3 separate regions of the Homo sapiens genome follow, and all the other regions are linked to region 2. Evidence: fine-mapped expression QTL. A gene starts in region 2. Each other region holds a variant in brackets. All regions are shown on one strand. Distances are from middle to middle.

Evidence for each region. PIP is the estimated chance that this variant, and not a neighbour inherited with it, causes the effect.
Region 1: its variant is fine-mapped to the expression of KATNB1 in whole blood (TOPMed, PIP above 0.99).
Region 3: its variant is fine-mapped to the expression of KATNB1 in whole blood (INTERVAL, PIP 0.98).

What each region holds. Positions count from the first base shown.
Region 1 is chr16:57,770,814-57,778,987 of GRCh38, reverse strand. It overlaps KIFC3 (kinesin family member C3), which reads left to right. Exons shown (of 20, transcript NM_001130100.2): 4 at 6,700-6,765; 5 at 7,302-7,445; 6 at 7,551-7,790. MIR6772 (microRNA 6772) reads left to right here and starts at 6,636; the gene lies at 6,636-6,699. RefSeq lists enhancers at 2,611-3,189, 3,158-3,217, 3,768-4,346. The variant G/C (reference allele first, on the strand shown) is at 3,871.
Region 2 is chr16:57,732,491-57,740,649 of GRCh38, reverse strand. It overlaps KATNB1 (katanin regulatory subunit B1), which reads right to left and starts at 4,880. Exons shown (of 20, transcript NM_005886.3): 1 at 4,795-4,880; 2 at 3,367-3,672. The coding sequence starts at 3,406. It overlaps LOC107984852 (a long non-coding RNA gene), which reads left to right and starts at 4,006. Exons shown (of 2, transcript XR_001752221.3): 1 at 4,006-4,214; 2 at 5,043-6,821. RefSeq lists enhancers at 3,685-3,754, 5,123-5,292, 5,039-5,333, 5,313-5,422, 6,052-7,029 and a silencer at 4,573-4,812.
Region 3 is chr16:57,808,836-57,816,999 of GRCh38, reverse strand. It overlaps LOC388282 (a long non-coding RNA gene), which reads right to left and starts at 6,481. Exons shown (of 4, transcript NR_169553.1): 1 at 6,216-6,481; 2 at 3,119-3,338; 3 at 1,355-1,576; 4 at 48-780. It also overlaps a transcript of KIFC3 not described here. RefSeq lists enhancers at 1-289, 6,267-6,326, 6,387-6,446, 6,637-6,766. The variant T/C (reference allele first, on the strand shown) is at 4,697.

The DNA of each region.
Region 1 (8,174 bases), 38 kb before region 2:
CATTCCCACTAACAGTGCACACGGGTTCCAGTTTCTCCATATCCTTATCAGCACTTGTTTTTCATTTTCTTTATTTATTTGTAGAGATGAGGTCTCGCTATGTTGCCCAGACTAGAGTGCAGTGGCCGTTCATGGTCATAGCTCACTGTAGCCTCTGAACTCCTGGCCTCAGGCAATCTTTGTGCCTCAGCCTCCTGGAGTAGCTGGGACTCGCTCCTGCTTATTTTCATTTTTGTAACAGCCATCCTAATAGGTGTGCAGTGGTATCTCATAGTGGTTTTGATTTGCATTTCCCTAATGCCAGTGATATTAAATATCTTTTCATGTGTGTTTTAGTTATTTGTATGTCTTCTCTGGAGAAATTGCTATTCAAGTTCTTTGCTCATTCTTAAATTGGGTTTGTTGTTGTTGAGTTATAGTTCTTTATATATCCAGGATAATAACTCCTTATCAGATAAATGATTTGCGAGTATTTTCCACGTGTTGCCTTTTCACTCTGTTGATAGTGTCCTTTGTTATACAAAAGTTTTTAATTTTGATAAAGTCTGACTTACCTATTTTTTCTTTTATTGCCTGTGCTTTTGGTGTTATATCCAAGAAGTCATTGCCAAATTTAATGTCATGACATTTTCTCCTCTATTTTCTTCTGAGAGTTTTATAGTTTTAGCTCTCACATTTAGGTCTTTGGGGTTTTTTGTTTTTTGTTTTGACACAAGATCTTGCTGTATTGCCCAGGCTGCAGTGTGGTGGTATAGTCATGGCTCACTGTGGCCTTGGCCTCCTGGGCTCAAGTGATCTGCCCGCCTCAGCCTCCCTAGTAGCTGGGACCACAGGCGTGTGCCACTGTGCCCAGCTAATTTTGGTTACTTGTTGTAGAGACAGGGTTTCCCTATGTTGCCCAGGCTGGTCTTGAACTCCTGGGCTCGAGCACTCCTCCTACCTTGGCCTCCCAAAGTGCTGGGATTACACCACGCCTGGCCCTCTTTGATCTATTTTGAGTTAATTTTTGTATATGGTATAAGGTAAGGATCCAACTCCATTCTTTTGCCTGTGGATATCCAGTTTTCTCAGCACCATTTGTTGAAAAGATTATCCTTTCCCACATTAAATGATCTTGGCAACCTTGTCAAAAATCATTTAACCATATATGCGAGGGTTTATTTCTGGACTCTGTATTCCATTCCATTGCTCTTTATGTCTGTTTTAATGTCAGTACCACACTGCTTTGATTGCTGTAGCTTTTTTTTTTTTAATTTTTTTTTTATTTGAGATGGAGTCTTGCTCTGCTGCCCAGGCGGGAGTGCAGTGGTGCAATCTCAGCTCACTGCGACCTCTGCCTCTCGGGTTCAAGCGATTCTCCTGCCTCAGCCTCCTGAGTAGCTGGGATTACAGGCGCCTGCCATGAGGCCCGGCTAATTTTTGTATTTTTAGTAGAGATGGGGTTTCGTCACGTTGGCCAGGGTGGCCTCAAACTTCTGACCTCAGGTGATCCGCCTGCCTCGGCCTCCCAAAGTGCTGGGATTACAGGCATGAGCCACCGCGCCTGGCCAATTGCTGTAGCTTTTTAGTGAGTTTTGAAATCAGGAAGTGTGAGACCTTCAGTCTTTCAAGACTGTTTTAGCTATGTGGTGTCCCTTGATATGGATTTTTCTATTTCTTTAGAAAATGTCATTGGGATTTTGTTAGGCATTGCATTGAATCTGTAGATCACTTTGGGTAGTACTGACACCTTATCAATATTAAATCTTCTAATCCATGAACATGGAATGTCTTTCCATTTATTGGTGTCATCTTTAATTTCTTTCACCAATATCTTGTAGTTTTTAGCATACAATATTTAACCTTTGTTAAGTTTATTCCTCGGTACTTTATTCTTTTTGATGCTATTGTAAATGGAATTATTTTCTTAATTTCCTTTTTGGATTGTTTATTGTTAGTTGTAGAAATGTAACCGATTTTTGTGTGTTCATTTTGTATCCTTCAACTTTGCTGAATTTATTAGTTCTAATTGCCCTGCTTTTAAAATCAAATTAATTCCAACATTCAAATCTTAATTAAATTCACATAAAACTCTAGACTTCCTTTTTGTCATAAAATATTGGAAGATGTGGCACCTCTGAGCTGACATTCCCACATGGCACCCACCGCTTGAGGTCTAGTGGCAGCTCCTGCCTTTGGTGGAGGTGACCATCCTTTAGCACGCTCCAGCCCCACCACCCTTTCTGTCTCTGCTTACCAACCTCATCCACAAGTTCTGCTCTGGCTGGCCCCTCATGCATTCAGCATTCTTCCTACAGGTACTTACTGAACACCTACTGTGTACCAGGCACTGTTCCAGGCACTGGGAGTACAGTGCTGAACACAACAGACAAAAATCCCTGCCTTCGCATATATCATCTCGTTTAATCCTCGAGACAGCTTCCATGAGGTAGCCTCATTATACAAATAAGGAAACTAAGAGACATAGAGAACTTAAGAGACTTGTCCAAGGTTACCCAGCAGGTAAGGGGATGTCTGGATTAGAACCTGGGCAGCCTGGCTTTAGAATTCGAATTGTCAGCTGCTATTACTGCCCATCAGTGGCGGAAGGACCCAGAGGTGAAGACTTGGCAACAGAGGCAGGGTGGCGTGGACAGGGGACAGATAGGCCTGGCCGGTGGTCATACAGCCAGGATCAGGCCTTCTGTGGGCTCCACAGGGTGTGCTCCCAGGGCCGCCCCGCTGGCCTCTGGGCTGAGTTTCCTTGAGGTTGTCTGGATCCCAGACCCTCTGGCCTTCCCAGCTCAGCAGCTTCAGCCTGGGAGAGCCCGCTTTTCCTCAGCAGACAGCTGATGATCGTTGACTGGGCTTGGTGGGAGGTAAGGAGGTAACCAGCAGGTTTTCTTTCTGTGATGGTAAGAGGCCGCCTTGGAAGCAGACAGCTGAGAAAACACAAAGACCTGGGCTGGCTGGCCCCACCCTTGGTCGAGCCGCTTCTGCCTGTGAAGTGTAAATGCAGGTGGTGTCAAGCCGGCAGACAGGCCCAGCTCCCTCTTCCCCTTGAGCAGGCAGGGTGACGCCCCCTGCAGCAGGCCCGTGATTCAGTTGCTCTGGCTGATGAGGAGCCTGGGCCCGGGAGGAGTGTCGCACAGCCCCAGCCTGGTCCGTCCTCAGCCCTGGATTGACGTCCATGCTGTCCTGGGACCGTTTCAGCCGCCTAGTGGGGAGTCTGCTTTCTCCTCCGTCCTGTGTCTTGGGCTCAGGCATGTGCCTGCTGCCCCTTTGTGGCCACAAGTATGTATCGGGCCCAGGGTGGCACTCGGGACCCTCCCCTGTTGGGCTTAGAGACATGGACGGCCCTTGCTGGCTGGAAGCTGCGGTGAGTGTGTGAAGGGCCCTCAGTCTTCCCTGAGGAAGGCCCTGCCTGCTCTTGGCTCTCACTGCTCCCAGGCCATCTTCCATCCGCTTTCCCCAGGTGCCTCCGTTTCTCTCTGACTTCTTGCCTGTTTTCCCTAACTCTGAGAGATTGCCTGCCTTCAAGTGCAGGAGAAAGCAGACATCTTCCCTACAAGCCCGAGACCTAGCCCCCAGTAGAGCTGGCCAACCACCTGCCACGGAGCAGGCCACTGGTGCCTTGGCCAGAGTGCTCGTGGTGCCAGTCTGCTGCGTCTCAGTCACATTCCCCCTGCTTTGCTGCCCTCAAGAAGCCAGAGATGACCTAGTGTCTGACACCTCTGAACAAAGGGGCCTTTAGAGCCCCTTCCTCAACTCCCTCACCATCCCCCATGCTCCCCAGCCTGCCCTGGTTGCGGTTGCGGCCACTTCCTTTTGGGTGCCCCTCTGAGATTCTGGACAGAGCCCAGGAGCCCCCAGGTTCCCATTGTGATGCAA[G/C]GACAGAACAGAACCCTGGGCCGCAGGCAGGTGGCTGGTGGGTATCCCGCCTCCCACCCCCAGCAAACACTGGCAAACCCCACTCTCCCTGCATCAGGGTCTGAGTGCCTGGCAGGGGCGGCAGTGGAGATGATCAAGGTTAGTGCGCCCAGCCCCATGCTGAGGCAGCAGCCTTTCTGGGGAGGGAGGGGGCGTGGAAGGAGACTTCAACCTTTTGAAGAGGAAGTCAGTTCACTTATGTCAGGGTAGGGAGAGTAGGAATTACGTATTCTTTGAGACTGAAAAATTACTGGCCGGGCGCAGGGGCTCACAACGGTAATCCCAGCACTTTGGGAGGCTGAGGCGGGAAGACTGCTTGAGGCCAGGAATTCAAGGCCAGCTTGGGCAAAATGGCAAGACCCTTCTATACATTAAAAAAAAAAAAAAAATTAGCCGGGCGTGATGGTATGTGCTTGTAGTCCCAGCTACTCGGGAGGCTGAGATGGGAGGATGGCTTGAGTCCAGGAGGTCTAGGCTGCAGTGAGCCTAGATCGAGGCACTGCACTCCAGCCTGGGTGACAGAGTGAGACCCTGTCTCAAAAAGAAAAAAAAAAATTACTGAAAAGCATAAAGATTTTGTCAACTATAATTCCACAGCCCAGAGACCCCCACTTTTTAGTGCTGTACACTTAATGGTTTTTCAGATGTTTCTTGGACTTAATATGTTGATGAGCCTTTCCCCATGACATTTAAAACTCCTGATAAACATGAATGTAATGATGACAGAATAGTCTATGTACTATATATACACATTGTAATTCACCTGCCCACTCCTCTAAGGGTGCTTATTCAGGGTATTCTCAATTTTAGGACGAAAGCAGAAAGGCTGCCTCATGCAAACTGTCCCTACTCCCACCCAGGGGCCAAAGGACTTGAGCCGTCCTCTCATCAGGCACTGAGCGGGCAGAGAAGTGGCACAAGCTCTGCCTCCCTGCCTGGCCCGTGGCCCAGCGTGTTGCTAGGAAGGAATGTGTTTGTGCAGGTGGCGGCAGAGCTGACCTCCAGGGGTCTGGCCCTTGGGTCACCTGCTTGTCCCCCAGGAGGCCTGGCTGGGCCCCCAGCCTTTCACCTGGGTCTTGCATCTTGGAATCCCCCTGCCCCACCAAGAGCAGGCAGTGCCAGCTCCCTGGCCTTTTCCTCAGAGGTGGGGGTGGATCCCTTGGTCCACTTCCTCCCTGACCACTCAGAGCTGGCCTAGCTGCTGTGAGTCAGCCGTTCTCTCCCACCCTGGGAGACAGGGACCTCCGAGGCCGAACACTACCTTGTTTGATGACACAGACTTGTTTGATGACATCTCAACCATGTAAAGTAGGGAGATTTTACACACACCCCCAAAATCCAAATGTCCGGCCTGTCTTAACTATGGCTGATGCATGCTGCTGAGTGCTAAGGGGGCGGACTCTAAGCCTCTATTTTTATTTTATTTTTTTTAGACAGCCTCGCTCTGTCACCCTGGGGTACAGTGATGCTATCATAGCTTACTGCAGCTTCAAACTCCTGGGCTCAGGTGATCTCCCACCTAACCCCCCGGATTACAGCTGGGATTATAAGCGTGCACTGGTGCACTCGGCTGAGTTTTGAAACTTTTTGTAGAGATGGGGTCTTGCTGTGTTGCTCAGGCTGGCCTAGGCCTCTCTTGAAAGATGAGAATTTTGGCGATGCTGGGTGTGCGTTCTCACCTCCTGTCGTCCGAGGAGAGTACGTGGTGGCCGCCTTCTTAAAGGGTTCTTGGGAGCCAAGCCCTGCACAGCCCCTCACCTGCCTTACCTGGCTGTCCCCTGTAATCAGTGGACGTTGTTGCCTATCATTTAGTAATGAGAACCCAGCTGTGTAAACCTCCTAAACCACCACACAGGAATCTGGCTCTTAGCGCACCTTTCCCGAGGTGGGGGTTGCTCACCACAGGACGTTCTGCAAGAAAAGTACTAAACATGCCCTGACGGAAGCTGGAGCCAAAGTCTGTGTCTGTGAATTGTTTCCTGAGAGAGGTTTCTGGGGGTGGGCTGATGTGAGACCAGGGTCTAGGGCCTTGGGAGGGGATGGGTGGCTGGAGGACAGCGCCGGGGAAGGGTTGCTCCCCTGGGATCTGCCCTCATGGGACTGGCACCATGATGGTGTCCCCTCTTCTGGGGTCCGGATAAGCTAGGTAACCGTGGCTTCCTCATGGGGTGCACACCCCCTTCCCCCTATAAGAGCCTTGGCTGCCACAGCTTTCCTGCAAGGCAGATTGGGAGCAGGGGTGGACACAGGTTCTGAGTGTGCCCTGACCACTGGCAGACCCATCTCCACAGGCTGACTTGCCAGAGACCACCCCAAGTGGAAAATTCTGGGGGCTGGGCCAGGGTGGATCTAGGGCTCGGAGGACCTGGAGTATGTACCATCTGGGGGCCCTTTTAAAGAGAGAGAACATAAAATTACATAGACACAGGCAGGTACAGGACTTTGGGAGGGGCTCGTGTAGTGAGGGGTCCTGAGGGTGGGCTGCCGTTGGGTGGGCCCAGGGGGCATCGGGGTGGCCTTGGTTGCACTTGCCCTCTGGGCTTTCCTGAAGAGCTGGGGTTGGCTCTGTCCTGTGGAGGGAGAGGGTGCGGGAGGCTGTCAGCACCAGCCCAGGTTTCTCTCACCTGAAGTCCCAGGTGTGATGGGATGCTTGAACATAGGGGAACCTAAGGCCACAGCCTTAGAAGAAGCCACAGCCACATCAGTCATCCCTGGTGCTGGGCAGGAGGCCTGGGTGTAGGCTGGAGCTGAGGACTGAGGCTCACCTTGCTCCTGACTCTGTGCCCACAGGTAGAACACCTGAAGGAGAAGCTCATTAGCCAGGCCCAGGAAGTGAGCCGACTGCGATCTGAGCTGGTGAGGCCACAAGGCTGTCCTGGGGTAGCGCAGGGCCTGGCCTGCCTTGTGCAGATGGGCCCTGCCAGGGGCAGGGGTGCGACCCTCTCTCTCCTGAGCCCGCATATCCCACCCTGTCTCAGAAACACACCGAGAGCCTTATCCCCACCTCCTAGTACCCTCAGAGGCCTTGTGGCTCCAGGGGGTGGGAGGTTCCTTCTCTGTTGCTGACATTAAACGGGAGTGTGAACCCTGGTATAAATATGTCTCTCCTTGTGACTTTCACACTCAGAATAGGGTGGGGGCAGCAGGGAGAGCAGGCTCTGGGTCACCACCCTTCTCAACTCTGCCCTCCACTGTCTTTCTCTTGGTTTCTCTCTTGAGCTTGTTCCCTCCTCTCTTGCCCTTGCCTTTTTCTTTTTCTTTTTCTCCTTCCCTCTGCCTTTCTCCACACCTCTCCTCTCTTCCCTGCCCTTGTGCCATCTCCGCGGGCCTCTCTTCTTTCCCCCGTCATCTGCCCTCGCCACATGCGCCCCCTCGGCCCTGGCTCTCTGCAGGGGGGCACCGACTTGGAGAAGCACCGGGACCTGCTGATGGTGGAGAATGAGCGACTGAGGCAGGAGATGCGGCGCTGTGAGGCCGAGCTGCAAGAGCTGCGCACAAAGCCAGCAGGTCCCTGCCCAGGTTGTGAGCACAGCCAGGTGAGCAGAATGGCCGTGGTCCCCATGCTGGTCCTGGAGGGCCACCCCAGCTCCTCACAGTGAGCCTGTCCCTTGCACTCATCCAGTGCCTCCCAATGGCTGCAGGAGAGCGCCCAGCTCCGTGACAAGCTGTCCCAGCTGCAGCTGGAGATGGCGGAAAGCAAAGGCATGCTGTCAGAGCTGAACCTAGAGGTGCAGCAGAAGACCGACCGGCTGGCTGAGGTGGAGCTGCGACTCAAGGACTGCCTGGCTGAGAAGGCACAGGAGGAGGAGCGGCTTAGTCGGCGCCTGCGTGACAGCCACGAGACCATTGCCAGCCTGCGGGCCCAGTCCCCACCTGTCAAGGTGAGCCCTGGCCCACCTGATCTGTGCCTCAGCCCAAGGCCCCTGGCACCTGGGGCAGGGCTAGCCCATAAGGGGGGCTTGTCCTGGTGAATAGGTAGGTGTGTGTGGGTGGAAGAATCATTCCAGTTCTGTGCTTGGTCCTGCCCCTTCCCCTTCCTGTATCCAGGGCCAGGCACCGAGTAGGTATCCAACAGCTGAGGTGCCAGGCACAGATGCAGCGCAGCCCCTGGATTCTGCCCTCGTCTTTTTGCCTTTCTTGTCTGTACCCAGGATGGGGCCCCAGCCAGGCTCATAGTAGCCTCTTGTTAAGCTGAGAAGGTTCCAGGAGACCCCCCCAGCTTTCTGGAAAGCCAGGACCTCAAGGCTCCTCTAGTTTTTTTCTGG
Region 2 (8,159 bases):
AGAACCCATCCCTGCATGAGCTCCTCCTGGAAAGAAGGGAGAAAAAAGACAGTTCTCCCCACACAGGCCAGGGGAAAACCCCAAGGTGCTGACGCCCCGAGGCACCCGGAAGGCCAGCGTGGGTGACGCCAAGGAAAAGGGTGTTGGAGCCACGGCGCTCCACAGAGGCCCCTCCTGCACCCCAGCTCCGACTCCACCCTGCCTGGGTGTCTCTGCTGCGGGCTTCAGACCACAAGGAGGTTGGGAAACTGGGCCCAGGGAAGCTGCTTGCCAGAAACCTGGGCTCCAAGGGGCCACCAGGAATACCCAGGGGACAAGTCGCAGGCTGAATCTCACTGATGACACCCTGCCTCCTGGGCCGGTCGGGGCAGAGCCAGCACAGGCAGCAGCGCCAGCAAGGGCGAGGGTTCCCTGTGGGCCCAAACCTGGGCCAGGGCGCTGGGAGTTCGCCATGGGGATCCCAGGGAGCTGGGCCCCACTTTAGTCCCGTCTCGATGAGAGCCTTCTGTCCTCTGGACACTGTCGGGACAGAAACCTGAGGAATTCCAGCCACAGACGTGTCTGTTCAAGGTTTCCACCTGACCCAGAAAGAGGGCAAAGCACCTTCTCCCTGGCATTCCGTGCCCGAGCCTGGTGTCCTCTCCGTGGAGGCACTGCTCGCTCCCCCTGGCCTACCTGGAGGGCTCTGTCTGTCCCCTGGCCCTCACTCCTCCCAGGGAAAGTGTCTGGCTGGGCCCCACCTCACTGGGCCTCAGGACTGCTGCCCCTGGAGTCAGGGGCATTCATTCATAATATCAGTATTTCCTGGGTGCCTGTTCTAGGCCTTGCACGAAATATGCCCCAGTATAATCAGATGGTGGTGGGGGCGGGACACTGAGCTGGCAAAACCGCAGACTTTGGAGTGAGAAAGATTTAGAAGTTGGGCCCTTCTGGAGGAGCCCACATCACTCCCCTCTAAGCAGCCTGACCAGGGACTGACTGGAGCCCACAGAGGGAGGGCAGAGGGGCAGGGACACAGCACAGGCACCTGCAAAGGAGGCACGGGGCACCACCCCAAGAGCTCCTCCTTCATCCTGGCTTGTTGGACAGCAACCAACAGCCCAGGCCGAATACTTGATTTTCATACCAAAAATAAAAAATAAAAATCCTCAGTGTCTACTGGCAGGCCAAGCTCTGGGAGTACAACCTGGGCCCCACATCCAGCCAAAGCTGGGGAACATGGTGCGGCGTGGCCAGAGGGGCTGAGGATCAGCATCCCAAATGCAAGATACAAAGTACTAGGTTTCAACGACCTCATGTGGGCCACGCACCTCTGATCCTCACCAGACCCTGGAGCCACAAGGAGCCAGAGGTCACGTGGCCCTGGGCTCTTCAGAGTTGATTCCCACGGACACCACCGTGCACATGAAATCAGCAGCAGCAGCAGATGCCCAATACGCCTGATCTCATTACCTCCTGCTCGCACACACTGATGGCTTGGCCTTGCCTTTATGATAAAGCACGGCAGCCTCAGGAGGGCTGGGGTCCTGAGAACTCAGTAGGTCCGTGCGGCCCCACATTCCTCCTGCTGCTGTGCCACTGCCCATGGCCTCCCTTGAGTCCTTCCAATACACTGAGCCTCCTGCCTCAGGGCCTTTGCACTTGCTGTTCATGCAGCCTGCAGCATTCCCACCCCACCCCTACCCCTACCCCCCAGCTAACTGATTCAAAGCACAGGCACCAGCTTGCAACTAGAGGAGACACAGAGGGATACGGTTATCCAGTTCCTGCCTGTTGCTCTCCCCAGGCTCTGAGCTCCCGCTGTACAGAGACCTTGACTACTTTGTCCCCCAGTGGCTCCCCAGTGCCTAGCTCTGGGGAAAGGCCAGCTGTCGAAGGGATGAATACGTAATCCCAATAATTACAAAGCCACTCTGACCAAAGTGTGCCTTCCTTGGGGAACCATAACAGGGTTCTCCCAGAGCCCTAGAGTTTTGGGGAACAACATGAAAATGGCCCAAACCTCTCACTTTACAAACAAGGAAACAGAGGCCCTGCAAAGAGCTTTGCCCAGAGTCTTATGGTTAAATTCATGGTTAAAAAGTGTGGAGTCTTGGCCAGGCATGGTGGCTCATGCCTGTCATCCCAGCACTTTGGGAGGCTGAGGCACGTGGATCACCTGAGGTCAGGGGTTCGAGACGAGTCTGGCCAACATGGTGAAACCCCGTCTCTACTAAAAATACAAAAATTAGCCGGGTGTGGTGGCGGGTGCCTGTGATCCCAGCTACTCGGGAGGCTGAGGCACGAGAATCGCATGAACCCGGGAAGCAGAGGTTGCAGTGAGCTGAGATTGCACCACTGTACTCCAGCCTGGGTGACAGTGAGACTCTGTCTCAAAAAAAAAAAAAAGTGTGGAGTCTTGTCCCAGCTCCTGAAAACCAGCCCAGGGACAGCTGGCAGCAGACAGTGACCAGGTGGAGCACACAAAAGCTATGCCAACCAGTTACAATAGGTGGGGCAGGGCCCACCAAGGTGCCAATGTGTAGGGGAATTCTCAAAATATGATCTGGGGATGCTTGGGATCCTCAAGATCCTTTCGGGGGGTCTGAGAAGACAAAAGGATTTTCACAATAACACTAAGATGGCATCTGCCTTTTGCACTCTCATTTGCTCTCAAGCATATGGTGGAGTTTCCCAGAACATCACTAGAGGCCTATTTGATTATATACTCTTGTTTGAAAATGTCTCAGTATTAACTTCTAACGTGGTAAATACTGACAGATATATAACTCCAACAAACAAAAGCACTCTGGGGTCCTCAATAATTCTTAAAGTATGAAGTCTTCAGATGAAAGAGTCCAGATCCACTTGTATAGGGCAATGGTGGGAGTGGACAGTGCCCATCAGTTACAATCCGAGCCCTGTCTGCATCCCTCTGCCCGCCCCTCCTCGCTCCCACTCCTTCCCCCATCCCAGGCCCAAGATGCTTTTATCTGACTGGGGAAGTTTGACTTGTGAGATGTCTGAGAATGCTGTGAACATCTTTCAGGATTTCTCACCCCACTGTCAGCCTAACTGGAAATGCTGTGCTAAGTGCTTTAGGATGGGTTCATCCTGTCACTTGAATTTCACAGCAACCATAGAATGCAGGCGTCATCTCATTGTACATATAAGAAAACTGAGCCTCAGAGAGGTTAAGTCACCTGCCCAGTGTCACCCAGCTAAGAAGTGCCACAGTCATGATTTACATAATGGTCTATCTTACTCCCAAGTCTAGGAGTCTCCTCCTGTGCCAAGAACAGGAAACAAAGCTGTGGGTTCAGGCCTCCCAGCAACAAGCCGCTAACAGAATAAATGGGGTGATAAAGAAAAATGAAAACCACTCACGCAACTTCCAGGCTGTCTTGGTGACCACAGGGGTGGCCATCCTTCAGCTGGCTGGCACCTGAAGCCCCACCCACAAAATAAACTGTGCTTTCCTCGTGGGGTGGGGGTGGATCCCCCCCCAGATCCACCAATCAAGTTGGCAGAGAGTTCCCACACATCCAGGCAGACAGAATGCCTCGTCTTCTGGCCCTGGGGTGCCTCGTGGTTCCAAATTACCCACAGCAGCAACAGCAGCAGCCTGTGCACATCTGTCACGATCCTGGATCATGGAATGTTAGGCTCGAGCCATCTCAGCTCAATACAGGGCTGCAATACAAACAAGAGGTGACGTCATGTTAGAAAATGCTTGGTAAGAGCTGTTGCTCCCTGGATCACCAAGACCACTTGATAAAGACTGACACCCACCAAAGCCACCAGAGTCAGAAGCTGCACTGCAAATTAGGTTTGGGAATCTGCAGAGGGGGCACCTCAGGTAGGGTGATTTGGAACGTAAGGAAAAAGAAACTCCTCCCAGAGGCCAGGATAATGAGCTGCAGCTCTGTTCCGGGATGCTGGCTGCCTAAAGTGCAGCAGCCGCAGTGGGGCGGAGAAGACCACGTGTCTGCAATTCACATAGATTTCCTGCGAGTCGTTGTTTTTGTCTGACGTGTGGGATGTGGGAGAGCGGAGTCAGAAGCTAAGCTTAGGGGCCTAGGAAAGGCATCCCAGAGACGGCCACTGAAGTCCTCCTTGGAAAGAATCTCGAAGACGACCCTGATGGTCCAATTCCCCAGCTCCTGGCAAGGGAACCGCTCCTGCTCCCTGCGATTCCCAAGGACAGAGCTAGGAACTAGGCCTCCAGTCTGGGCGTAAGTGGCTATGACTCTTCAACTCTAAAAGGCCTCCTCATGGAGCCTCCCACCTCCTTCCCACAGCCACTTCACCTCTTTCCCATGAGCCCGCTCCCCTCCGTCCCCTTTCTCCTGGGTCCCCGGGTCTGCCTCTCTAGTCCTCCGTTCACACCCCCTTTTCTCCCTGCCCCCTGAGTCTCCCACTTATGCACATCCTGTCTCCCGATATCCCTCACGTGGCCCCTGCCTCGCCAGACTCCCGTTACTGCCCTTTCCCATATGCTCGCGGGGTCTCCCATTCATTCATTCTCCTACTTCTCTTCTCCCTATTCATTACCTGTCCTTCTGCAGACCCCCAGCTCTGCTTCCGGCCTCCCTGGTTTTGCCCCCTCCGGCCTCCACCCCGACCCCTCTCGTCCGGGGGCGGGGGCAGGTCCCTCGGCCACGGCTGATCCTCCCAACCCTCTGCTTGCGGAGTACGGGCTCTAGCCTCCCCACGCTCAGAGCTCTCTGCCCGCAAGCCCAGCCAGCCCCGCCTGGCTCGGCCCAGCCCAGGGCCCACCGTCCCCTCGCCACCTCGTCCCCTTGCCCACTCCACCTGCAGCTGCGGCTCCGGAGGCCGAGGCTCCGCTCCAGGCGCGACCCCCACTTGCCTCCATCCCCTGCCTTGATTGGCCGCTGCTTGACAACCGACCCTCACAACAAAACCTCCGGCTCAGAGCCCCGCCCACCTTGCCTCCCGCACCAATCAGCTGCCGCGGGTGCTCCGCCTCCTGCCAGGACTGACCAATGGAAGCAGGCGCTTCTGCCGCTTTTCCTCAGTACCCGCCCTCTTTTCCTAAATAGGACTAATCAAGAGGAAGGAACGTTCAAGAGCCGCCCCTTGGCCTCTAATAAACCAATGCAAGCTGCCGTTTCCTTAGTCCCGCCTCCGTCTCAAGTTTTCCCTTTCCTCTCCGTTTCCTCCCTCGAACCTAATTTGTGTCTGAAAACTTTTGAGAGCCGCCCTCCAATGGCGGCTGCGCCAATGGCTTGAGCAACCGTCCTGGATTGACCAATCAGCGTCCGCATTATTGGAAAACTCAATTCCCAGATAGCCAATGGGAAAGGAACTTCGGGGGCAGTGTGAAGCCTCAGGCCTTCCATCTTGGAGTGGGGCAAAACCTAAGGAGGCCTTAGTCGGCATTTTGCCGAAGCTCCTCATTCTTCACTTTGCCTGCAGATGGTCCCCCGTGGCAGGAGGACTTTGTCCCTGTTCTTTGACCCGGACGCCGGCTTGAATCCCCCATGGGAGGTCTAGAAGGAAACAGCCTGATTCCGGAGCCGAGGCAGGCGCTGAACCCTGTAGCACTGCACACGCAGCCACCGCCTCGACTAATGGATGCGTGGGCAAGGGGCTGCTCCCTGAATGGCTGCAATCAGGGAATCGGAGAAAGGCCAGCTTTATTTGTGACACGTTGGGCGGGGTGGGCTCTGGGAAGCGCCGTAACCCTTCTCGACTCAGGGCCTCTCGCGTGGCCGCTTAGGAGGGACTTGGCCCCGCAGCCGCCTCTCCCTGTTGCCCAGAGGTTGTCCCAGGCACCCAGAGCCCCTCGAACCTTGCCCTTCGGCCTCCAGCCTCTCACCGCAGGTCAGGGCTCCTTGGGCTCACATAACGCCCAGTACAACCATAAGAGGTAGGAATTCCTGTTCCCATTTACAGATGAGGAAACTGAGGCCCGGGTTAAGATGCTTGCAGAAAACCACACGGTCAGAAAGTAATAGCCCCAGAATTCGAACCCTTGTTCTGAAAGCCAAAGCGTGGGGGAGTCCCCACTCTGCCTTCTGCTTCAGCCTTCTGCTTCAGATTCTCCTGCTTCAGCCTCCTGGGTAGCTGGAACCACAGGCGCCCGCCACCACGACGGGCTAAGGCTAGTTTTTATATTTTTAGTAGAGACGGGGTTTCTCCATTTTGGCCAGGCTGGTCTTGAACTCCTGACCTTAGGTGATCCACCCGCCCCAGCCTCCCGAAGTGCTGGGATTACAGGCGTGAGTCACCGCAAGACACCTTTAAAAGATTAGCAGAATAACATCGGATCAAAACTGTCTAGCCTGCAGTTCCCCTTAATTTTGTATTATAAAAAGAAAACTAAACAGAGAAAACTTTAAAAGACAATATAATGATACCACGTAGATTCCAGTACTTGTTAACAGTTTGCCATATTTGCTTCGTCTGTGTGTCTTTTCGGAACCATTTGAAAATTGTAGATATGACATTTCACCCCAACACCAAATACTGAGCATGTATCTCTTAAAAATAAGGCCCTTGGCCAGGCGCGGTGGCTCACGCCTGCAATCCCAGCACTTTGGGAGGCCAAGGCGGGCGGATCACCTGAGGTCAGGAGTCCGAGACCAACCTGGCCAACATGGTGAAACCCCGTCTCTACAAAAAAATACAAAAATTAGCCGGGCGTGGTGGCGCACGTGCCTATAATCCTAGCTACTGGGGAGGCTGAGGCAGGAGAATCACTTGAAACTGGGAAGCAGAGGTTGCGGTGAGCTGGGATGGGGCCACTGTACTCCAGCCTGGGCGACAGAGTGAGATCCATTTCAAAAAATAAAAATAAAGCCCTTATTCTACAATAACCATTGTTATCACCACTGCTAAGAAAATTTAATTCTGTAACAACCAGTCCATATTCGTATGTCCCCAGTCATCCCAAAAACCTTTTAGGACTTTTTTTTTCTAACTAAGAACCAATCAGTATTCACCACACTTGACTCTTAAGTTCTTTCCATTTCTGTCCCCAAACTTTTATTTTTATGACATCGATCTTTTGAAGAGATCAGGCCATTTACCTAGATTGTCCCACGTTAGGAATGTTTCCTTTTAGTATCATTTACCTGAATTTCCTGAAGTTCTTGTTAGATGGACGTTCTTCTTAAATGCATTTCTTCCCTTGAATTTCTTAAGTTAGGGCTAAAGGCTTGATTAGATTCATGACAACAAGCAGTCAAAAACACTCCAGAGGACACATTGTAAGTGCACAAGGTTGATGAATTTTTACAAACCGAACACACCCAGGTCAAAAAGCAGAACGTGACTAGAAACCAGAACCTCCCCTCCCAGGGCTCCATGCTCACATCCATTCACTAACCCTCACACTCCAAGAGTGACGGTTGTCCTGACTTCTAATATCACCAATTAATTTTCCTTATTTTTGTTCTTTCCATAAATGGAATAATAGAGTATGTACTTTTGTGTCTTGAATCTTTTGACATTATACTTAGGCAGTTTGACCATATCATTCCATATAGTTGTGTTGCAGTTCATTCATTTTCATTGCTCTATGATATGGTTTGGCTGTATCCCCACCCAAATCTCATCTTGTGAATTGTAGCTCCCATAATTCCCACATATTGTGGGAGGGACCCAGTGGGAGATAACTGAATCATGGGAGGGGTTTCCCACATACTGTTCTCATGGTAGTGAATTAGTCTCACGAGAGCTGATGATTTTATAAGGGATTTTCCTTTTTGCTTGGTTCTCATTCTTTCTTGTCTGCCACCATGTAAGATGTGCCTTTGGCCTTCTGCCATGATTGTGGGGCCTCCCCAGCCGTGTGGAACTGTGAGTCCATTAAACCTCTTTTTCTTTACAAATTACCCAGTCTTGAGTATGTCTTAATCAGCAGTGTGAAAACAGACTAATATACTCTATAACCTCAACATTATTGGCATTTAGACCTAGATAATTATTTGCTGTGGGGGGCTGTTCTGGGCATTGTAGAATGTTTAGCAGCATCCCTGGCCTGTATGCACTAGATGCCAGTAGCATTCTCCCTAAGCAGTTCTCCCTAAGCAGTTAAAGACAACCCAAAATATCTGAAGACCACAATTTATGTATCCATTCTGCTCTTGATGGGCATTTGGGTAACTTCCAAGTATGGTGCTATTATCAATAATGCTGCTATGAAAGTTCTA
Region 3 (8,164 bases), 76 kb before region 2:
GTGATAATTCAGAAAAAGTGCTCCATGCCATGGTGCCCGGCATGTAGTGAGTGTGAAGGGTTAGCTGTGATTATTATTGTTATCATTCTTAGTATTATGGTTCAAGGTCGGTTGTGATGGCCACAGATTTGGTCACAGGGAGACCCCTCCAACCTCCCTGGCCTCAAGTCTTACTGGGGGTGGGATGGGTTCCCTGGTCTTGGTTTCCCATGAGCTCCTGCCTGGAAGGGGTGGCTGTCCCTGTGGCAGTGGCTGACTTCCACGGATCCCTGAGGGGAGAGTTCTGTTGAGGTTGGTGGGGGTGCCCTCCAAGACTCCTGGTTGTGGGGAGGGGTGGAGGCTGCCTGGTGTGGCAGCTGCCCAGGGCTGGTTTCTGGAGCACAGCTCAGCAGATGCCTCAGGAACCTGTCTGGCAACAACATTCCTCCGCCACTCAGAGCAGCCAGCTGTCACTCGCAGCCCGTGTGGTTTTGTAAGGCGCAGACAAGGAACGTCAGCTGCTTCCCAGCAGGGCCCGTGAGTCACTTCGGCAGCTCTGAGCCCAGAGTTTCCCCTGTGGCGGCCAAAACCTTTGCCTCTTGGCCCAGCTTCTGTCCTGTGACCAAAGGCGGGTCTTCTGAGGCCTTCCTCAAGAGGAAGCCAGGAGGGGCAGGCCCCAGGATCCTGAAGACACACGGGAAGACAGATCCCACCGCACTTCCTTACTTCCTCAGGCTTCTGGGTTTGGGGCAAGGAGTGTCGTGATTTGGGTTGACACTTTCCGGGCCTCGGTTTTCTCACCTGTGAATGGGGATGTTGTGAGAACTTGATGAACTATTAGAAGTGGGAGCACCCTCCCCTTTCCTCTCCCCAGCAGCTCAGGTAGCAGGTCAAATGGTTCAGAGCCACTGGTAAGAGGATTTGACCACATCCTTCCTGTGGGTACGTGGATGGCCACTCACTAACATCAGGACCAAGGAGGCCTCAGGAGGAAAAGGGACAGCACTCCTGAAGACCCTCACCCCAGGTGAAGTTCAAGAATGTAAAAGCCTGTTTGTAGCAGGGGTGACCCAGCCGAGTTCATCCTCAAATGGACCCCGGGGTATCCGGGCAGCACTCGCCACAGGGCACAGACTTAACCCAGGCACCAAGCACTGCATGTGTGCCTGAGGTGGGGGAGTGGCAGGAAAGGAGTCTGGGGGTGTTTGGGGGTGTGTGTGTAGAGAGTCAGAAGAAGTTGGTGATCCCAAGGACCCAGGCAACTTGGCCGTGGGACAAGCCATGGCTGGGTGGAGTTGAGGGAGTAGACAGATATTTGCTCCCCTTCTCCCAGGCCCCGAGTGGAGTGTTTAGCAGGAATACCCACTTCACTTACGTTTTTGGAGCCTCCGTTTCCAACATCAGGTGCAGCAGCCATGTGGGGGCACCCCCAGCCTCCCTGGTGAGGGTGACTAAGGCATCAGTGTTGGTCTTGGAGGGCATCCTGGTAGAAGAGTCAGGCCAGGTGCTGATGTGGTCCCAGATCAGCCAGGTTGGGGGTGATGGGCAGAGTCTTGTAAGCAGCCCCTCGGGCTTTGGAAAATGCTTGGAGGGGATCCTAGAAAACACGTGGCGGTGGTGGGGTGCGGTGTGGATCTCTAAGCACAGAGATGTACCTGTGGCCTTGAGCTAACAGAAGCAACCCGGAGCTACTCTGGTTACAAATGAGCACAATTCTGCCTCCAGTCAGCCTCCCAGGACCCCCACAGCCTTGGGCACCATTTATCCAGGTGGCTTGTTTGCCACCGGGCTCTGTGCATTGCAGGACTTGTTTGGGCAGAGTCTGTTTCTGTGGGTAGAGACAGGGCTGATGTGAGAAGCAAAAGGAGGTCACCCCAAGTTCCCAGCCACAACAGACTGCCAGCATCAGCCTCCAAAGATGGTATCACCCCAGCCTGGACAGGGCCAGGCCTGCGTGTCCTAGAGCATGTGCAGAACTCTGTTTCTGAAATTCCTTCCTACCTAAGGCTGGTTTCAGTTCCAGCCATATTTGAATTTTGCTGAGTTTGAGTGTCTGCTGTGCACTAGGTTTTATAGCGGACAAAAGAATGGCAATAATAGGCCAGGCATGGTGGCTCACACCTGTAATCCTAGCACTTTGGGAGGCCGAGGTTCGTGGATTGCTTGAGCTCAGGAGTTCAAGATCAGCCTGGGCAACATGGTGAAACACCATCTCTACTAAAATACAAACAACTGGGTGTGTTGGTGCATGCCTGTAGTCCCAGCTACTTGGGACGCTGAGACACGAGAATTGCTTGAACCTGGGAGGCAGAGGTTGCAGTGAGCTGAGATCGCACCACTGCACTCCAGCCTGGGTGACAGAGCATTTGTCTCCAAAAAAAAAAAGAATGATAGTAATGATAATGATGGTGGTCCTAATGACAGTGACAGTTTCTTCATCTGTAACATGGGATAATTATAGTGCCTGCCTCATAGGTGCTGTAAGGATTAAATGGGAGAGTTCATGTAGAGTACTTAGCACATAGTACCTGGCACATAGTACGTGCTCAATAAATATTACCTGTTAATGAGGAAACTGAGGCTCAGAGACTTACCCTAAGTCACACAGCATGGGAGCCTGAATCAGGGACCTCCAATCTAATGTAGGAGACTAACAGTCCCCCACAGTTGTGAATCCAGTGCTAGGTGAGCTAAGGGAAGGGGAGGTGGTCCTGGGGAACTTCTGACTAGGTGGTATCAGGAGTCCCCATGGAGGAGGTGATGCTTCCATTGGGCCTCACAGGTAAACGGCTGCAGGTGGGGATATGGGGGTGTGGGTGGAGCATATGAAAAATTCAAAGACCAGAAAGAGGGTGCCTTGTGGGGTCAGTGGGAGAGAAGGCTGGGCAGGGCGGCTGCAGGCAGATGGTGAAGAGCTCTGAATGCATGCTGAGGAATGACCCACAATGACAAGGTACCCCATTGACTGTGCCCTTGAGAGGCAGTGTGGTGCAGTGGTTCAAGACTTGGACTCTGCAGCCAGCCTGCCCCAGTCAAATCTATAGCATGAGGACAGTAGCGGGATGTACAGGAAGAATAAGCAGGAGTGACTGCACAGCCCCTACCCGGTGCCAGGGTAGATCCCTTCACCTCTGCCTACCTGTCTACCAGGGACCGCATGGCTTTTATGTCCAGGAGAGCATGGGGTTCTGTCTTCAGGCTGTGACTCTGGAGATGCCTTGAGTCTCCCGAGTCCCCGGTTCTCTTCCCTCTGAAGGCACGTGCTGCAGAGGCTGTGAGGATGCCAAGCCCACCTGCATGAGTGGTGCCCGGGTGCAGGGAGGTGCTGGACACACGCAGGATGCCAGGTGGGAGGTTTGCTTCAGAGCATAGGAAATCCTAATTATTGTCATGCAGGCACTCGGCAGGCATGCAGGTTTGACCCCAGGGCTGGGATTCTCAGAAGGTGGTTAGAGTCTCCATTTGTTCACTTAAGACAGGGGCATCCGGTGCCATTTGCCCCAGGAGGTGGGCATGAAGAGCATAGGACAGGGAGGCGTGGAGGGGGTGGAGTAGCGTGGGGGCAGTGCGTGCTTTCTGGGTTATCTGGAGATTTAGACAGGGACACTGTGCCTCCAAGATCCTCTGGCTTCTCCTTTTCCTTTTATTTATTTATTTATTTATTTATTTTTGTATTTTATTTTATTTTATTTTGAGACAAGGCCTTGCTTTGTTGCCCAGGCTGGAGTGCAGTGGCGCAATCTCGGCTCACTGCAACCTCCGCATCCCGAGTTCAAGTGATTCGCCTGCCTCAGCCTCCCAAGTAGCTGGGATCACAGGCGTGCACCACTACGCCCAACTAATTTTTGTATTTTCAGTAGAGATGGAGTTTCGCCATGTTGAGCAGGCTGGTCTCGAACTCTTGACCTCAGGTGATCCACTAGCTTCAGTCTCCCAAAGTGTTGGGATTAAAGGTATGAGCCACTGTGCCTGGCCAGGTTCTCCTTTTTCAACAGCAAGTTGCCTAAACAGTACAAGTGGAATGAGCTCCTGCCTCTTATTGGCCAGTTTAGCCCTCGTGATGGATCCCTTGCACCTGTGCACCTGGCTCAGCGTTAGGTCTAGTCTGGGGTTGCCTCTTGGGCAGCTGCATCTGCCTGTGCCCCACAACTGCCAAGCAGACATGGCTGGACCAGTTCGGGGGAGCCCCTCAGGGGCAGCAGGTATTCCTTACTCACACTTTCTGGAGTGTTAAGATGTTTCCAGGCAACTGAGAGCGCCCTGGCCAGCCCGGTGTTTCGGTGTTTCCAGTCCAGGCTTTGTTTCCAGGCCCTCCCTGTCTGAGCAACACCTCATCTCACCCTGACTCATGGGGTCTCTCCCGCTCCACCTCCAGCCGTTTTCTTGCCACCCTCCCCACATTCCTTCAGGTCCACACACACCTGCCCTTTGATTCATGGCTCTTTCCGCTCTGAGGAAGGCAAGCACCAAAGGCCAGGGCCCCATCACACTCGGTCAGCAGCTGGGGCCACCGCCTGCCACTGGGTGTCTTCACACACACCTTTCCTGGACTCTGGAGTGAGGCTGCTTAGAGGGGGATGATTGCAGAGGGGCTGGGTGCTGAGGGCCCTATTCCCAGAAGGCAAATCCCAAAGGCAGCTCTGGCCTGACCTCTTTTTTTTTTTTTTTAAGAGATGGGGGGCTGGGCGCAGTGGCTCATGCCTGTAATCCCAGCACT[T/C]TGGGAGGCTGAGGCGGGCAGATCATGAGGTCAGGAGATCGAGACCATCCTGGCTAACACGGCGAAACCCCATCTCTACTAAAAATACAAAAAATTAGCCGGGCGAGGTGGCGGGCGCCTGTAGTCCCAGCTACTCGGTAGGCTGAGGCAGGAGAATGGCGTGAACCCTAGGGGATGGAGCCTCCAGTGAGCCGAGATCGCGCCACTGCACTCCAGCCTGGGTGACAGCGAGACTCCGTCTCAAAAAAAAAAAAAAAGAGAGAGACGGGGTCTCGCTCTGTCACCTAGGCTGTAGTGCAGTGGTCTGATCATAGCTCACTGCAGCCTTGAACTCCTGGGCTCAAGTGATTCTCTGGCCTCAATCTTCTTTTTTTTTTTTTTTTTTGAGACGGAGTCTTGCTGTCACCTAGGCTAGAGTGCAGTGGCACAATCACAATCTCGGCTCACTGCAACCTCTGCCTCCCAGGTTCAAGTGATTCTCCGCCTCAGCCTCCCAAGTAGCTGGGTTTACAAGCTTATGCCACCATGCCCGGCTAATTTTTGTATTTTTAGTAGAGACAGGGTTTCACCATGTGGGCCAGGCTGGTCTCGAACTCCTGACCTCAAATGATCCACCTGCCTCAGCCTCCCAAAGTGCTAGGATTACAGGTGTGAGCCACTCCGCTTGGCCCCACGCCTCAGGCCTTCTAAGTAGCTGGGACCATAGGTATGCACTCCATACCCAGCTAATTTTTAAATGTTTTTGTAGAAATGGGGTCTTGCCACGTTGCCCAGGCTGGTCTCAAACTCCTGGCCTCAAGTGATCCTCCCTGCTCTGCCTCCCAAACTGCTGAGATTATAGGCGTGAGCCATCGCGCTTGGCCTGACCTCTGTGTAGGTCTCTCTCTCTCCTGTCCTCCCTCCTTCCTTCTTCCTTTCTCTCTTAAACGGCTTTACTGAGATATAATTATCATACCATAACATTCCCTGTTTAAAGTGTACAATCCAATAGTTTTTAGTATATTTACAGAGTTGTACACTGTCACCATAAACTAACTTTAGGACATTTTATCACGCCCCAAAGAAGCCCCATTCATAGTCACTCATCATTCTCCCTCCCAGGCCCTGGCAACCACTCAACTACTTTCTTTCAGTGGAGTTCCTTGGAGAAGCAACTGTGAACAGTGAAGCCAACCCCAGGTACTGAGGTGGGATGCTCCTGCCCTTGGATCAGGCTTTCAGCAAGCAGAGTCCCAGAATGAGGACCATCCCTTCCAGCTGGCCCACTCACTTCCTTGTGGCTGTAGCCCTGAGAAGGTCACCAGTCCACCCTCCTCCTTTACCCAGGGAGGGGCATGAGACCCAGAACAGGGAGGAAGTCTGACCAAGGTCACATCGTGGGTTGGGGACACAGCTCCTGCTGGCGGTACCCACCATCTCTGGCACTCCAAGCTATCTTCCCACAGCAGCCCCTACACATCCATAGGCCTTCCACTGGCCTCAGTCTCTCCATCTGTACAATGGGAATAATAACACCTACCACACATGTTGTTGCGGGGATTGAATGAAAGCAAAGGCAATCCTGTGTGTAAAGAGTTTTTCCCTTTGCCTGGCATGAAGCTGTCCCTCAGCCCATTGCTGAAGTTGAATTAGATTAAATTCCCGTCCTGGCATTCAGGGCCCTGCACATTCTGGTTGTCTGGGGTGGATGGAAGTTTGTCCCTCCCCTCCCTTGGAAGGTGGCAGATGGAAGCCACTGGAACCGCAGGATCCTTGCTGCTTCCTCTCGGTCACCTGGAAGCTGGTGGTGTCAGCGGGGCGGGCGGGAGGTTGACACTGGTGGCGATGACTCAGCACTGAGAGCTGTGGGAGTCTAGTTAATCAGCAGCGTCAAAACTTCCTGTTGCTGTTTGCAAACAAGGGCCACCCCCAGAGGAGGAGGACCAGAGCTAGGGGAGAGGCTGCGCACCACAGAACCTCAGCAAAGCGAAGCTACAGTTTAAAGGCAGCAGCAGCAGTGGTGCTAAGAGTTCAGCAGGTGGTCAGGGGCTGTGGCTATGGCTTTCCAGGAGCACGTGGCTTCCCTTATGGCCCCTGTCCCCATCTCCCCACCCAGGAGGAATTTTTTTTTCCCCCAGTAGTAGCTGATTGACTTACTGCAAGGAGCCCCAGTGAAGTGCCAGGGTGTGAGAGCAGGAATCATGGTGGTGGCACCAGATGAGACTCATCCGTCTAGGATGGGCCAGAGTGTTGGACCGCGGGGTACTGAGGCGTTCCAGGACTGACCTCAGAAGATCTCTGAGGGCTTAACAGCAGGCAGGGATTGGGAGCACTGAGTCAGTGCTCTCAGCCCCACCTGGCCTGGCCCAGCAGACAGAAACACTCCCGGCCTGAGCACCTGGCAGAAGAACCAGATACGCCCCTCTGGTGACAGCCATCGCTCAGATATCTTTATATATGCCTCATGCCTCCCAGGAGAACCAGCCAGGGCGAGAATTCCAGATCCAAGAGAAAAACTGTAAATTAGCGTGAAAAGTAGTTCTCGTCAAAAAATGCTGCCAACGACAGTGTAAATTTGGTACAGGCCTTCTGAGGGGCAATCTGGCAACATGTTTAGAAAGTGAAAAAAAAATGCTCAGACTCTTTATTCAGAAAGATTTTTTATGAAATTGACAACCTCTCTTCTCCCTTCCCTCCCCACACCAGGGAATGAACGGGCTGTGTGGGTGGCAATGGTGACAGCAATGCTGTTTATAAAAGTGACAAAAATGGGAGCTACTCAAATATCAGACCCTACGGAATGGCCAGCTCAGTCAGGGCACAGGCTCTCAGTGGAATATTATGCAGCCATTTAAAATAGTTTTTTGCTGGGTGCAGTGGCTCACAGCTGTAGTTCCAGTACACGGGAGGCTGAGGTGGGAGGACTGCTTCAACTCAGGAGTTTAAGGCTGCAGTGAGCTCTGATCATGCCACCTCACTCCAGCCTGGGTGAGAGAGCGAGACCCCAACTCTAAATAAGTGAATAAATGAAATACTTTTCAGCCATTTTTATTGAGTGCTAGGTGCGCCCCAGACACTGGAACCTCCATTCTGAATGTGACCTTGGCTTTATCCTATGATGTCTGCACTTCAGAAAAATGTAGGCATTAGCAGGAAAAAGTGACATGGAAAATGCTTATTATAATAATTAAAAAAAATTTAGAGATGGGAGTCTTGCTATGTTGGCCAGGCTGACCAACTCCTGGGCTTAAGCGATCCTCCCACCTCTGCCTTCCAAGAAGCTGGGACTACAGGCATGAGCCACCACACCCAGCACTTACATGATTCAAAGTAAGAAAAGGCAGAGTAAAAAATTCTATCCGGTCTTTGCCTCCCACTATAACTGCAGCTTGTGTTTGCAGAAATGCCAATTGTGTGCCAGATGCTGGGCTGAGGGTGCTATGTGCTTGCTCCAATTTACATCTCACCATAACTCAATGGGTTAGACAC